Regions from separate parts of the Homo sapiens genome. Here region 2 is linked to region 1. A link means that fine-mapping ties the variant in region 1 to the expression of a gene that starts in the linked region. Tissue or cell type: sun-exposed skin. Region 1 holds a variant in brackets; the other region holds the start of a gene. All regions are shown on one strand. Distances are between the middles of the regions.

Region 1 (8,000 bases):
GACTCCTGGGTCTGAGGGAGGAGAGGCTGGGGGTCCAGACTCCTGGGTCTGAGGGAGGAGGGGCTGGGGGCCTGGACTCCTGGGTCTGAGGGAGGAGGGGCTGGGCCTGGACTCCTGGGTCTGAGGGAGGAGGTGCTGGGGCCTGGATTCCTGGGTCTGAGGGAGGAGGGGCTGGGGCCTGGACTCCTGGGTCTGAGGGAGGAGGGGCTGGGGGTCCAGATTCCTGGGTCTGAGGGAGGAGGGGCTGGGGGCCTGGACTCCTGGGTCTGAGGGAGGAGAGGCTGGGGGTCCAGACTCCTGGGTCTGAGGGAGGAGGGGCTGGGGGCCTGGACTCCTGGGTCTGAGGGAGGAGGGGCTGGGCCTGGACTCCTGGGTCTGAGGGAGGAGGTGCTGGGGCCTGGATTCCTGGGTCTGAGGGAGGAGGGGCTGGGGCCTGGACTCCTGGGTCTGAGGGAGGAGGGGCTGGGGGTCCAGACTCCTGGGTCTGAGGGAGGAGGGGCTGGGGGCCTGGACTCCTGGGTCTGAGGGAGGAGAGGCTGGGGGTCCAGACTCCTGGGTCTGAGGGAGGAGGGGCTGGGGGCCTGGACTCCTGGGTCTGAGGGAGGAGGGGCTGGGGTCCTGCAGTCCTCGGTCTCAGCAGGAAGGGACCAGAAGTCGACTTCTAGATCATTTCTCTCCCTAGGTGTTCCAGGCTGGTGATGTGCCTTCGGAACGCCCATTCTATCCCCCAACCTTGGTCTCCAACCTGCCCCCAGCCTCCCCATGTGCCCAGGTGGAGGTGAGACCCTTAAGGCTGCAGAGCTCCTACCCACCGCCAGCCAAGGGCAGCAGCTCTGTGCCTGGGGAAGCCCTTGGGGTAACCATGTGACCTGGGCGTGGGGGCTGCTGCCTGCTCTAGGCTCCTTCCCTGGTGGGTGGGCCCTGGAGGGCTGAGCCTCCCGGTCACCCCTTGCAGGTGCCGTGGCCTGTGGTCGTGGCCTCCCCCTTCCGCACAGCCAAGGAGGCACTGTTGGTGGCCAACGGGACGCCCCGCGGGGGCAGCGCCAGTGTGTGGAGCGAGAGGCTGGGGCAGGCGCTGGAGCTGGGCTATGGGTCAGTCTGCGTGGCCCGGGCGCTCACTCCTCTCCTCATTCTTCCATCTTCATCTCCCTTCTCCCTGGGTCGCTCCCCGCGCCTTTAACTCACCCCTCTCCCGGCCTGCCACCGTCTGTTTTCCTCTGTTGGACACCTTCATCTTCCCCACAGGCTCCAGGTGGGCACTGTCTGGATCAACGCCCACGGCCTCAGAGACCCTTCGGTGCCCACAGGCGGCTGCAAGGAGAGTGGGTGTTCCTGGCACGGGGGCCCAGACGTGAGTACATCCCCTCCCCGTCACCAGCCCCCCCGCCGCCCCATGCCCTTGACACTCGCATCCGGCCTCGCGTGCCCCTTGCATCCTCTTGACACCGTCCCTCTCACAGGGGCTGTATGAGTATCTGCGGCCCTCAGGGACCCCTGCCCGGCTGTCCTGCCTCTCCAAGAACCTGAACTATGACACCTTTGGCCTCGCTGTTCCCTCAACCCTGCCGGCTGGGCCTGAAATAGGGCCCAGGTGAGTCGTTGGGGGCCAGTGGTCTGGGAGTGTGAACGGGGAGAGGGGAATTGATGCCTGTTTCCCCGTGGACTGGAGGGCTGGCGCGAGGTCCATCCAAACCATCTCTTAGTCCTGCTGAGTACCACGTTGTGGCCTCACACTTTCCCTACCCCAGGCCTGCCGAGACTCTCAGCTCTGCCCCATGAATGTCTGTACTCTCCCAGAAACTCATGGGTCTAGGAGCTTGGGGTCCCCCAGAGGTTCACTGGAGCAGAAGCTTGGGGTCCCTCAGAGGCTCATGGGAGCAGGAGCTTGGGGTCCCCCAGAGGCTCATGGGAGCAGAAACTTGGGGTCCTCCAGAGGCTCATGGGAGCAGGAGTTTGAGGTCCCCCCAGAGACTCAAGGGAGCAGTTTAGGGTCTACCAGAGGCTCATGGGAGCAGGAGCTTAGGGTCCCCCAGAGGCTCATGGAGCAGGAACTTAGGGTCCTCCAGAGGCTCATGGGAGCAGAAGCTTTGGGTCCTCCGGGGCTCATGGGAACAGGAATTTGGGGTGCCCCACAGGCTTATGAGAGCAGTTTAGGGTCTGCCAGAGGCTCATGGGAGTAGGAGTTTAGGGTCCCCCAGAGGCTCATGGGAGCAGGAGTTTAGGGTACCCAGAGGCTAGTGGGAACAGGGGTTTGGGGTCCCCCAGAGGCTCATGGGAGCAGAAACTTGAGTCATCCAGAGGCTCATGGGAGCAGGAATTTGGGGTTCCCCAGAGGCTCATGGGAGCAGTTTAAGGTCCCCCAGAGGCTCATGGGAGCTGGAGTTTAGGGTCCCCCAGTGAATCATGGGAGCAGGAGTTTTAGGGTCCCCCAGAGGCTCATGGGAACAGGGGTTTGGGGTGCCCCAGAGGCTCACGGGAGCCAAGGCAGTCTTCCCAGTGCGGTAGAGCATAGGGTCTGAGCAGATTGAGGCCCCAGGACTCCTCCTCATGTCCCACCCTACTCCAGCCCAGCACCCCCCTATGGGCTCTTCGTTGGGGGCCGTTTCCAGGCTCCTGGGGCCCGAAGCTCCAGGCCCATCCGGGATTCGTCTGGCAACCTCCATGGCTACGTGGCTGAGGGTGGAGCCAAGGACATCCGAGGTGCTGTGGAGGCCGCTCACCAGGCTTTCCCTGGGTAAGGGGTCACACGGGAAAGCCCAAGGGTCATGGTGTGGCAGAGAGGGGAGCCTGCCCACAGCAATTGGTGGACTGGGAGGCTGGGCCCCCAGGGTAGGGGCTGTGGACAGAGGTGGGGTGTCAGGAGAGCCAAGACCAGGATGCCAACCCCCACTGTGCGCTGTCTGCCCACAGCTGGGCGGGCCAGTCCCCAGGAGCCCGGGCAGCCCTGCTGTGGGCCCTGGCGGCTGCACTGGAGCGCCGGAAGTCTACCCTGGCCTCGAGGCTGGAGAGGCAGGGAGCGGAGCTCAAGGCTGCGGAGGCGGAGGTGGAGCTGAGCGCAAGACGACTTCGGGCGTGGGGGGCCCGGGTGCAGGCCCAAGGCCACACCCTGCAGGTGAAGGGTCTGTGGGCACCTGGGCCAGCTGGGCAGGCGGGGTGGGGCTCAGACCAGAGGCTGTGAGATAACCCAGGCTTGGAATTCGGGCCCAGCCCCACCGCCTTCCACGGCAGGATCATCAGCAAGTGGCTTCACCTCTCCCTACCTCAGTTCCCTCATCTGTACAGTGAGTGGGCACACAACCCGCCTCGTAGAGTAGCGTTCGCCAGATGATGGATAGCGACCCATTCCTGGACCCTAAAATCAATTTAGTGGGCTGTTAGGCGGTTCTCACATTGCTGTAAAGAAACACCTGGGGGCGCAGTGGCTCACGCCTGTAATCCCAGTACTTCGCGAGGCTGAGGCAGGCGGATCACGAGGTCAGGAGATCGAGACCAGCCTGGGCAACAC[G/A]GTGAAACCTGGTCTCTACTAAAAATACAAAAAATTAGCTGGGTACGGTGGTGGGCACCTATAGTCCCAGCTACTTAGGAGGCTGAGGCAGGAAAATTGCTTGAACCCAGGAGGCAGTGGTTGCAGTGAGCCGAGATCGTGCCACTGCACTCCAGCCTGAGTGACAGAGTGAGACCTTGTGTCACAAAAAAAAACAAAAAACAAAAAATACCTGGCCAGACATGGTGGCTCACGCCTGTAATCCTAGCACTTTGGGAGGCAAAAGTGGGTGGATCGCTTGAGGCCAGGAGTTTGAAACCAGCCTGGGCAACACAGTGAAACCCTGTCTCCACAAAAAATAGATAAATTAGCTGGGCATGTTGGCACCAGTCTCCCTCTGGCACCCGGCTGGAGTGCAGTGCCACAATCATGGCTCACTGCAGCCTCAACCTCCGAGGTCCAAGTGAGCCCCCCACCTCAGCCTCCTGAGTATCTGGGATCACAGGCACACACCAGCACACATGACTGGGTGTTTTTGTATTTTTGCAGAGACAAGAGACTCGCCATGTTGCCCAGGCTGATCTTGAACTCCTAGCTTCAAGTGATCCGCCTGTCTTGACCTCCCAAAGTGCTGGGATTATAGGCGTGAGCCACTGCGCCTGGCCAGGGATTACATTTCAACATGAGATTTGGGTGGGACATCTGAACTATATCATGGGCCAAACCATATTTCTTTCTTTCTTTTTTTTTTTTTTTTGAGACAGAGTCTCGCTCTGTCGCCCAGGCTGGAGTGCAGTGGCGCAATCTCGGCTCACTGCAACCTCTGCATCCCAGGTTCACGCCATTCTCCTGCCCCAGCCTTCCGAGTGGCTGGGACTACAGGTGCCCACCACCACACCCGGCTAATTTTTTTTTTGTATATTTAGTAGAGACAGGGTTTCACCATGTTAGGATGGTCTCGATCTCCTGACCTCGTGATCCGCCCACCTTGGCCTCCCAAAGTGCTGGGATTACAGGTGTGAGCCACTACACCCGGCCTTCTTTTTTTTAAATTTTATTTTACTTTAGTTCTGGGATACATGTGCAGAACGCGCAGGCTTGTTACATAGGGATACACGTGCCATGGTGGTTTGCTGCACCTATTGACCTGCCCTCTAAGTTCCCTCCCCTTGCCTCCCACCCCCCAACACCATATTTATTTTTAACAAAAGAAAATAGACCAGGCGCAGTGGCTCACGCCTGTAATCTCAGCACTTTGCGAGGCCAAGGTGGGCAGATCACAAGGTCAAGAGATCGAGACCATCCTGGCTAACACAGTGAAACCCCGTCTCTACTAAATATACAAAAAAAAAAAATTAGCCGGGCATGGTGGCAGGTGCCTGTAGTCTCAGCTACTCAGGAGACTGAGGCAGGAGAATGGCGTGAACCCGGGAGGCGGAGGTTGCAGTGAGCCAAGATCGCACCACTGCACTCTAGCCAGGGCGACAGAGTGAGAGTCCGTCTCAAAAAAAAAAAAAAAGAAAGGCGGTTATGCAGGATGTTTCTCACCGCCCGAACCCCCGTGGAATGATTCACTTTGACCAGCGTCTGCGAAATGGCAGGGGCTTCCACAATGGTGCGGTTTGGGCCAACACCAAGTGTTGGGGAGAATGTAGAGGAACTGGATCTCTCATTTACTGCGGGCGGGGCTCCCCTGCCCCACACGTGACCCACCTGTCCCTGCAGGTAGCCGGGCTGAGAGGCCCTGTGCTGCGCCTGCGGGAGCCGCTGGGTGTGCTGGCTGTGGTGTGTCCGGACGAGTGGCCCCTGCTTGCCTTCGTGTCCCTGCTGGCTCCCGCCCTGGCCTACGGCAACACTGTGGTCATGGTGCCCAGTGCGGCCTGTCCTCTGCTGGCCCTGGAGGTCTGCCAGGTATAGCCCCCTGCCTTCCTGCCTCTCCTCCCCGTAGCCTCAGGGCAGCAGAAAAAGGCGCCCCAAAGTCGGCAGGAGCTTGTCTCTTACCCCACCCTCCGTGGTACCCATGCTGCCCCCAGCCCCAGCACCCAAACCTTCACTCCTTGGGGACCCAGTGCCCATTCTTCACCCTAGGCCTGGGGCTTTCTCCTCCATGACCCCCCATCCCCTTCCCTCCCATGGGCACCCCCTGAATGCCCACTCCTTGCCCTGCCCCCACGGCCTCCCCAACCTTTCACTCTCTCTATCCCCTAGGACATGGCCACCGTGTTCCCAGCAGGCCTGGCCAACGTGGTGACAGGAGACCGGGACCATCTGACCCGCTGCCTGGCCTTGCACCAAGACGTCCAGGCCATGTGGTATTTCGGATCAGCCCAGGTGCTCTTTGTTCTGTTTTGCCATCTTCAGCATCTCAAACTTCAAACAGGCTCCTCCTTTTCTGGAAACACAGCCCCGCCCTCTTAGAACTCCTGTTGGTAAGGGGAGAAACTCCTTGACAAGAAGGTTTTGAGGCCCCGCCCTTAGGACTCAAGTTACTAAGGAAGAGGCTGTCCTTAGCAACAGGGGCCTGAGAGCTGCCTAGCCCAAAGACCTCGTCTCAGGGGACAGCCCGTTGCTAAGGACCACACCCTAGATTTGGAGGCCCACAGTCTACGCTTTGTTTTTCTATTTTGAGACAGAACCTCACCCTGTCACCCAGATGCAATCATACCTCACTGCAGCCGCAACCTCCCAGGCTCAAGCCACCGTCCCACCTCAGCTTCCTGAGTAGCTGGGACCACAGGCGTGCACCACCATGCCCAGCTAATTTTTTTCTTTTGCAGAGACTGGGGTTTCTCTATGTTGGCCAGGCTGATCTTGAACTCCTGGGCTCAAGTGATCTGCCCGCCTCGGCCTCTCAAAGTGCTGGGATTACAGGTGTGAGCCAGCACAACTGGTTGAGTCTACTGTTTTTTTTTTTATTTTATTTTATTTTATTTTATTTTTTTTGAGACAGAGTCTCACTCTGTCGCCCAGGCTGGAATACAGTGGCACGATCTTGGCTCACTGCAACCTCTGCCTCCCGGGTTCAAGTGATTCTCCTGCCTCCCAAGTAGCTGAGACTACAGGCACTCACCGCCATGCCCAGCTAATTGTTGGGGGTTTTTTTTTAGTAGAGATGGGGTTTCGCCATATTGGCCAGGCTGGTCTCGAACTCCTGACCTCGCGTGATCTGCCTGCCTCAGCCTCCCAAAATGCTGAGATTACAGGCGTGAGCCACTGTGCCCAACCAATTTTTACTTTTTAAATGGAGACGGGGTCTCGCCATATTGTCCAGGCTGGTCTCAAACTCCTGAACTCAAGCGATCCTCCCGCCTCAGCCACCCCAAGTGCTGGGATTACAGGAGCGAGTCACCGCGCCCCACCGTCCACTCTCTTAAACCTCCTGTTGGTAACAGATGTGAACTTGTTGACAAGAGCCTTGGGGCCCATTCCTTTCAACATGGGCTGTTAAGGGAGAGGAAATTCCCTAACCACTGGGTCCAGTGCTTTTCCCTACCATCTGGAAGTTCTGCTTGGGAGGAGCTGGGCATTGTAGCTGCAGAGCCTGGGTCCAGCCTGAAGCCCCTCGTCAGTAACAGTCTTCATCGCGGAGGAAGCAGGTGCTCAGCAACAAGCCTGCAGAAGTGCTTACCCCCGTCTCTTCCTCCCCTCAGGGTTCCCAGTTTGTCGAGTGGGCCTCGGCAGGAAACCTCAAACCGGTGTGGGCGAGCAGGGGCTGCCCGCGGGCCTGGGACCAGGAGGCCGAGGGGGCAGGCCCAGAGCTGGGGCTGCGAGTGGCGCGGACCAAGGCCCTGTGGCTGCCTATGGGGGACTGATGCCTGAGCGCCACCTACTGCATTTTGGACACCTCACACCAAGGGGAGATGCACCCCACAGACACCTGGGACTTTCCCCTTCTGGTTCCTGTGTCTCCCAATAAACTCTCTGACCAACCCTAGCTGTGCTTCTGCGAGAAGAAAGGGTGTAGCAACTTCTGGCAGATATGAGGCTTTTTTCTTTTTTTTTTTTTTTTTTGAGACAACGTCTGGCTCTGTCACCCAGGCTGGAGCGCAGTGGCACAATCTCGGCCCACTGCAGCCTCGACCTCTGGGGCTCAAGGGATCCTCATGCCTCAGCCTCATATGTAGCTGGGGCCACAGACATGCACCACCACACCTGGCTCGAGGCCATTTTAGTTCTGAGGTTGAGCAGCTCAGGAGCCGGCTCCAGCACGGTGCTGTGTTTGTGAAACAGAGAAAGGGGACCCCCGAGGACCCCAGACAGGGCCTTAGGACTCTCATATCTTCTTGTCTTCTCCATCTGGTGGCTCTTGCTCTCTGGTTTTCTCTACCTTTTCATGGCCCCAGAATCCATATGCAGTAAAGGAACTCTCTGGAATAAAATTAAAGTCCTCCTATATGACTTTTGTCAATTTCCATGATGTAAATGCTCCCACCGTGCCGGATTTCAAGGTACAGGTGATTAAACAACTGCCTGCGAGATCCTGAATTGTTAACAGGTCAGCTCCCATGAGCCAATA
Region 2 (8,000 bases), 25 kb before region 1:
ACCCAGAGAGAGGGAGAGAGAATAACAAGGGAGCAGAGACCCAGAGAGAGAAGGGGACAGAGACCCAGAGATACAGGGGGACAGAGACCCAGAGACATAGTGGGACAGAGACCCAGAAAGAGGGGGACAGAGACCCAGAGAGAAAGGGAGACAGAGACCCAGAGAGAGAGGAACAGAGACCCAGATAGAGAGGGGGACAGAGACCCAGAGAGAGGGAGAGAGAATAACAGGGGAGCAGAGACCCAGAGAGAGAGGGGGACAGAGACCCAGAGATACAGCGGGACAGAGACCCAGAGACATAGCGGGCCAGAGACCCAGAAAGAGGGGGACAGAGACCCAGAGAGAAAGGGAGACAGAGACCCAGAGAGAGAGGAACAGAGACCCAGATAGAGAGGGGGACAGAGACCCAGAGATGGAGGGGTCAGAGACACAGAGGATGACAGAGACCCAGAGAGAGGGAGACAGAGACCCAGAGAGAGGGGGAGAGAGACCTAGAAATAGGGGGACAGAGACCCAGAGAGGGAAGAGATGGAAACCTAGAGAAGGAAGCAGACAGAGTCCCAAAGAGAGGCGGGGACAGAAACCCAGGAGATAGAACATAGATGCAGAGAGATGAGAACAGAGATCCAGAATGCAAGAGAAAGATGGAGAGCCTGGGAGACGGAGGATAGACAGGCTGGGGACGTGATTTGTGAGGTGCAGCCCCTCTCTGAGGTGGGTAGGCAGCCAGGGGATCGGGCTGGATCCCAGGAAGGGGCTGGAACAGATGGAGGCGAGGGAGACTGGGACGGGGGAGGAAGGAACAGCCAGACGGTCCAGGGGGAGGGAGGTGGAAGAGCTGTGAGAACACAGCAACCCCTCCCCATCCTAGAACTTAAGGAGGTGGGGAGGGGCAGTTAAGAAACAGGGGTGGGAGAAGCCAGGGAGTGGACAGAACCCAGAAGGAGTAGGAATGAGACCCCAAGAGGAAGAAGACAGAGAGCCAGAGATAGGGGGGATTGAAGCCACTAGGACGAATAGTACAGGATGGCAGTAACTCCCCCCACCCATCAGAACCCATCACCCAAAGAGATTAGACTGACCCAGGTTGACATCGGATGATATTTGACCCTGAAACTCAAGATGTGATTGCAGCCCCTGATGTGAGATTCCTTGTTAATATGAGGAGATGTCAGATCTCTAATCAAGGCTGTCTAAACAGGGGGTCTCAGTATCCCACATCTATAAAATGGGACAAGGGCAAAAATGCAAGAGAATAAAGAGGGAACTTCAAGGTGATATCAATCATTTTAGAGCAAGAGGACCAAGGACACAGAGATGAAGGTGGCCCTGATGCTTTGCAGGGGACAAGGACAGAGAAGGGAGACCCTAGATGTAAATCCCCCTCCCCTCCCTGGATACCCCAAACTCAGGCCTGGGGACTTGGCGATGAGGAAAAACAACACTTAGGAGGCCATTACCCCAAATTGAGATGTCTCAACTTCTCTGTCTCTCCCTCTCTCTCTCTCTGCTTCTCTCAGGATCTCTGTCCACTCCCCCACGTCTTTGTCTCCTTATGTCCCTCTGCTCTCTCTTCTCTTCCCATTGTACAACTAAGGAAACTGAGGCTCGGGGAGCTGAAGTGGCACTCCAAGGTCACAGACAAGAACAGCAATGGGACCTGATCCCTTACTGGCCCTCGGCATCCCCCTGCCCAAGACCTGGCTCTCAGAAAGGAGGCACCTTGGGTTCTCATCTCTCTGGCATCCCATTCCCCCATGTCCTTGTTCCAAGTCACCCTGGGTGCAAGGAAGCTCCCCACCAGCTGTGGCATCACTCTTCTCAAGGAAGAGCTCTGTTCTAGGCTTGGGAGGGAGACTGACCTGGGTTCAAATCATGGGGCTCATACTCATCCACTGATCTCCCCAACCCCAGAATGGAGCCTCAGTTTCCCCATCTTTGTCTAGAGGATTAAATGAGATCAACCTGTTGTCTCTAATATGGGGTATTCCCCTCTCCCTCCAACCATCAGAGCAAACCCCAGGCATTGGAAGCAAATGCTTTTCTCTGCACAAACTCCCTGCTGATGGTCCTGGCCAGAGCCCGGGGGTCTCTGGGGACCCAAGAGGTAACTCAGAGAGTGAGAGCCAGAGAGATTGACTGTGAGAAACCCTAGCACAGATGAGAAACAGAGGCAGAGACTGAGGGAGGGGCCTGAGGAATACATCCCTCCCGCTGCCACCCCCCAGCCCCCTCCACCAGCACGTCTCTTTCTCTCTCTCTCATTCTCCTGACTTCACACTGATGTATTTTGAGAAACTCGTGAAAGGAGGCGAGAAAAAGGGTGGGGAGGGGCTGGAAAATTGGAAAAAGAAGGGGTGAGGTTATCTCAGCTTCCCCTCCACCACCAACCTCCGTCACTGCACCATCCTCCTGCCCACCTCCCCCCACTTCTGTCCAGCCTTATTCTTGTCTCTCATGTTACTAGAGGGTGGGGTAACTTTGGAGCTAAGAGGTGATCTGCAGCAAGCAAGACTGATGTTAGACTTAGCAAAGGACCCCCATGGCCTAGCGAGGTGGACTGAAGCTCAGCGAAACACAGGGTCAGGGCTGTGGGCCAAGGGGACAGGGCCTGAGGGCACGGCGGCAGGGGCATGGTGCTGATGAGGCCATCTCCTTCGTGCACTGTGGCCAGATATATTTTTAGGCTTTTCCGCAGCTGAGTAATTTATCTGACTTAGAGCCAAAGCTGGGGTTGGGGGTGAGAGCCTGTGGGGAGGTGTCCAGATTATCCTGAGGGACACTCGGTTCACTGGGGTCATCAACCTGGTTGGGAGGGAGTCCCTGTCAGCCCCAGCCTGTATCCTTTGGGAAGGCTGTCCTACCCCAGGAGCCGAAATTTTTGGCCTCTAACTCCTTTCTCTCCCAGGGACCCAGGGTGCTGTGACTTCTTCCACCCAGCCTCACCCCCTCAAGGACAACGGGCTATGAGCCCCAATCCGCTTTAGCTGCAGATTAAACTCCATGCCAGACAGAAACGGAAAAAGACACAGAGAGACGGAGAGACCCATGGTGGGAGAATTAAAACACAGAGACGGGGACAGGGACCCAGAGAAGTGGGGACCAGAGATCCAGGGAAGAGGAGAGACCCAGAAAGAGGGGGACAGAGACTCTGAGTCAGGAGTTGATAGAGATCCAGTGAGAGCAATGGCCAGAGAACCAGAGAGAGGGGCACAGAGACGCAAAGAAGCGGAGGCAGAGATCTAGGGAGAAGGAGGGGCCCAGAGAGAAGGGAGCCGAGATCTGGAAAAAGAGGGAGACGGAGACCCAGAGAGAAAAGGGGCAGAGACATCCAGAAAGAGACGGGGACAGAGACCCAGAAGTGGTGGGGGAGGAGCCAGAGACCCGGGAGAGAGGCATTTACAGCACCAGAGAGAGTGGAGCCGGGTGGGGTGGGGTGCAGAAAAAGGAACAGGATAATGGACAAGGCTCGACCAGGGAGAACAGCGCCGTCGGAGCCCACGGCAGAAAACTGGACAGATGGGTGGACCCCCATGCCGGGGTATCGCCCGTTCATCTGTCAGTCTGCGCCCAGGTGGGAATTAGCATCCTCCTCAGATCCTCCCACTCTTCTCCCGGGACCCCCGCCAGGCTCACCGGTGCAGCTTCCCGAGAGCACGACCCGCTAGCTTCCGAAACTCCTCCTGGCGGAACTCCATGGTGGCGGCTCCTGCCGCCGGTCACCCCGCGGGTCCCCCCCGCCGATCCCCCCGCCCGCGGGCCCGGGCGGCCGCGTCCGGGTTCCCGGGGTCCAGCCCCGGCCCGGCCGGCCCCGCAGCTCCGCTCGGGGGGAAGGAGGCTGCAAGTGCAGGCGGCCCGGGGGCTGTCACAGGACTCAGCGCCGGGGGCGGGGCGCGGGAGGCCCCGCCCCGGCCCCACCAGGCCCCTCCCCTCGTCTGTCAGACCCGCCCCCTCTCGCAGCCCTTTCATCCTCGTCCTGTCCCCTCCTGAGCCTTCCAAGACCACGCCTGTGGGTTCTGAACTCACGCCTCCGAGTTCACGCCCCCCAATTCTGTTCCTTCCCCAGGCTACTCCCCCTATCCCTGTTCCATCACCCCTGGCTCCTACCCAGATTTTCTCTCCTCTCCTGAGTTCTCATCCCCATCATTTCTCTCCCCGACTTCTGTTCCCCCTAATTGCGTCCCTTACAATCCTGTCTTCTCTGACTTTCCCTCTGCGTTCATCCTCCAGTTCCTTCACTCCTCCCCGCCCCCACCCCGCAATTCCATCCCCATCCCACCTCGTCCCCAGTTCCAATAGTCTCATCCAGGGAGTTCTTTGTTTTCTCATTCAAGGGAAATTCTTTCCCCTCAAGTCCAACGCCTACTTCGATCCACCTGTCGTCCCCCTCTAGTCCCTTTCGCCACCCGGGTTCTTCACCCTTGAGCTCCATCTCCTCCTTAGTTTCCATCTTTCCCCTTTGAATCCCATACTCCTCCAGCTCTATTCTCCCTCCGGCGTCTCTCTCCTCCCTGTTGCTTCTCTCCCTGAGTTTCATTCCCTAACCCCGATTTTCTTCCCTCTGGCTTCCGCCCCCCACAGTTATATTTCACACACCCCGCCAGTGCCAGCTGCGACCCCATAGTCTCCCCATTGTGTTATTTCTCTGCTCCTCTGGGATCTGTCCGCGCTCTGAGTTCTTCCCTAGCTCCGGGGGATCCATTCCTCTATTTGAGTTCTGTCTCCACCCCCTGAGATCTGTCCCGCCCCCTAAATTGTGATCCGCACCCCCTGGCATCCTCACCCGCCCTCTGAATTTGTCTCCTCCCCTAGGATCTGTCGCTGACCTGAGTTCTGCCCCCGCCCTCTGAGTTCTCTCCCCACCGTTGGAGTTGTGTCCCCTTCTCCTAGGATCTGTCCCTGGCTCTGTTCCCGCCCTCTCAGTTCTGTCCTTGCCCCCTGGAATCTGTTCCTGCCATCTGAGTTCTACCCCTTCCCCACAGGATCTATCTCTGCCCCCTGGAATCTGTCCCCACCCACCGAGTTCTGGCCTCCGTCCCTGGGATCTGTCCCCGCCCTCTGTGTTCTACCCCTGCCCCATGGGATCTGTCCCCGCCCACCCAGTTCTCCCCGCCCCCTGGATCTCTCCCTACCCTCCCAGTCTTGCCCCGGCCCCATGGGATCTGTCCCCGCCCTCCGACTTCTGACCCTCGCCACTGGGATCTGTCCTCGACCTCCCAGTCCTGCCTCCGCCCCCGGAATCTGACCCCGCCCACCGAGCTCTGGCCTCCGCCCCTGAGATCTGTCCCCGCCCTCCCAGTCTTGCCCCTGCCCCATGGGATCTGTCCCCCGCCCACCGCCTCCGCCTCTGGGATCTGTCCCTGCCCTCCCAGTCCTGCTCCCACCCCCGGAATCTGTCCCCGCCCACCGAACTCTGTCTCCACGCCGGAATTCCAGCGCCGCCCCGTTGGGTAGAGCCCGGCCCTTCCCTGTCCTGGGCCCGCAGACAGGGTCCCGCCCCGCTCCTGTCCTCAGACCAGCCCATCTCCCGGCGCTGAGTCCACCTCCAGATCCAGGCCCCAGGAGGGTGATCCTTTCCCCACTACCTCCCCGCGTCGGGCCGCAAATGCATTTGGTATTAAATTTTCATGATGCGGCCCGCGGTGGGGTGGGAGGAGCAGACGGCGCGTCGGGCGGGCGCCAAGGACGGGGTGGCCGGGAAGCCACTGACCGCCGCAGCCTCTCGCTTCCAGCCTTGACTGGCTGTGTCTCTGGGTCTCACAGCTTTGAGAAACCCCTGGGACCCCAGAACGGAGGACGCTGCGGGTCTGAGGCAGGAGGGAGGTAGGAACTGGGACTCGTGGGGCTGAAGTAGCAGCGCGGGAGCCGCTCACACGCGCCACCCAGTGGCTGCAGAGTCCCCGGCCCGGGTGCGGAGGCGGTGGTTGCGGCTTGGGGCCAGGTGTGAGGGTGGAGCAGATGGTGAAGAGGAGGGAGTGGGAAGCGGGCCCCGCCGCTGCCAAAACTTGGGCCTTTGCCGAAACCATCGCCATGGAAACCGAGGAAGGAGGAAAGGACTCAGCCGCACACTTTTTCAGGACCTGGGAATGAGTTACTCGGCCCCCTCCAGCGGCTCACCGTCCCAACCACAAGTCCCAGCGGCCTCTGAGCCTCAGCGCTCGTTTGAGAAGGGCCGCGCACTCCGAGGGCCGCTGGGAGATGTAGTTCTCTGAGACGATGGGCAGGGAAAGGTTGCGCCCTCTGGTGGACACGGCGCCCACGTTCGCTCATCCGTTCCGCGGCCGGAAAGACCCTACCTGAAGTCACTCCCACCCTGACCTCTTCCCCGTCTTTTCTCCCCCTCCCTCACAATTCACCCCATTGCAGACACATTGTGCTTGCCTGCCTGCCTTTTCTTTCCTTCCTTCCTCTTCTTTCTCTTCTTTTTTCTTTCCTTCCTTCATTCCTTCTTTCTCTGTCTTCCTTCCTTTCCCCTTCCTCCTTCCTTTTTCTTTTTTTCTTTCCTTCCTTCATTCCTTCTTTCTCTGTCTTCCTTCCTTTCCCCTTCCTCCTTCCTTTTTCTTTCTCTTCTTTTTTCTTTCCTTCCTTCATTCCTTCTTTCTCTGTCTTCCTTCCTTTCCCCTTCCTCCTTCCTTTTTCTTTCTCTTCTTTTTCCTTCTTTCTTCCTTCTTTCCTTCCTTCCTCCTTTCCTTCCTCCCTTCCTTCCTTTTTGAGACAGGGTCTCACTCTGTCGCCCAGGGGCAGCTCACTGCAGTCTTAACCTCCCTGGGCTCCCACCTCAGCCTCCCGAGTAGCTGAGGACAACAGGTGTGCACCACCATGCCCCACTAACTCACATTGTGCTTTGAGCATTTACCACTGAAGTTCCTCCATCTACTGATGATCCTAGGATTCACTAAAGAAGAGGAGGGTATAGACCATCACTTTTTTTTTTTTTTTTTTTTTTTTGAGATGGAGTTTCGTTCTTGTTGCCCAGGCTGGAGTGCAATGGCGCCATCTGGGCTCACAGCAACCTCCGCCTCCTGGGTTCAAGCAATTCTCCTGCCTCAGCCTCCCTAGTAGCTGGGATTATAGGCGCTTGCCACCACGCCAGGCTAATTTTGTATTTTTAGTAAGAGACGGGGTTTCTCCATGTTGGTCAGGCTGGTCTCAAACTCCCGACCTTGGGTGATCCGCCCGCCTTGGCCTCCCAAAGTTCTGGGACTACAGGTGTGAGCCACTGTGCCCGGCCTCAACAATCACTTATTAACTCAAGAAATATTTATCAAGGCAGGGCGCTCCTGTAATCCCAGCACTTTGAGAGGCTGAGGAGGGCTGATCACTTGAGCTCAGGAGTTCGAGACCAGCCTGGGCAACAGATGGAGACCCCGTCTCTATAAAAAATATTTAAAAATTAGCTGGGCATGGTGGCACCTGTAGTCACAGCTACTTGGGAGGCTGAGGTGCAACCATCACTTGAACTCGGGAGGTTGCAGAGTGAGTCAGGATTGCACCACTGCACTCCAGCGTGGGCCTAAGAGCCAGACTCTGTCAAAAAAAAAAAGAAAGAAAGAAAGAGAGAGAGAAAGGAAGGAAGGAAGGAAGGAAAAGAAAGAAAGAATAAAGAAAGAAACTTCTGCAGATGTACTGGGAAGAGGATACAAAGTAGCAGGAACAGCAGAAACTAAGAGATGAGGGAAAATGGGTGTGGTCAGGACACTGTTCAGTATGACTGGGCTCCAGTTAGAGGAAGAGGTCAAAACTAGGCTGGGCACAGTGGCTCACGCCTGTAATCCCAGTATTTGGGGAGGCCATGGTGGGAGGATCACTTGAGGCCAAGAACTCAAGACCAACCTGGGCAACATAGCAAGACCTCATCTCTAAAAAAATGCAAAAAATAAAATTAGCTGGGCACAATGGTGCATGCCTGTCATCCTAGCTACTCAGAGGCTGATGTGGGAGGATCACTCGAACCCAGGAGTTCCAGGCTGCAGTGAGCTACATGATTGCACCACTGCACT

Evidence for each region. PIP is the estimated chance that this variant, and not a neighbour inherited with it, causes the effect.
Region 2: it holds the start of SLC17A7, and the variant in region 1 is fine-mapped to the expression of SLC17A7 in sun-exposed skin (GTEx, PIP 0.93).

The regions. Positions count from the first base shown.
Region 1 is chr19:49,463,172-49,471,171 of GRCh38, forward strand. It overlaps ALDH16A1 (aldehyde dehydrogenase 16 family member A1), which reads left to right. Exons shown (of 17, transcript NM_153329.4): 9 at 683-778; 10 at 956-1,092; 11 at 1,246-1,351; 12 at 1,461-1,591; 13 at 2,567-2,734; 14 at 2,911-3,112; 15 at 5,210-5,395; 16 at 5,693-5,815; 17 at 7,135-7,879. The coding sequence ends at 7,296. Among named protein-coding and RNA genes, the nearest start is that of FLT3LG, 7.0 kb to the right of the region's middle. RefSeq lists an enhancer at 5,663-5,862 and a silencer at 6,283-6,332. The variant G/A (reference allele first, on the strand shown) is at 3,506.
Region 2 is chr19:49,437,682-49,445,681 of GRCh38, forward strand. SLC17A7 (solute carrier family 17 member 7) reads right to left here and starts at 3,846. Exons shown (of 12, transcript NM_020309.4): 1 at 3,637-3,846. The coding sequence starts at 3,698. RefSeq lists an enhancer at 6,140-6,249.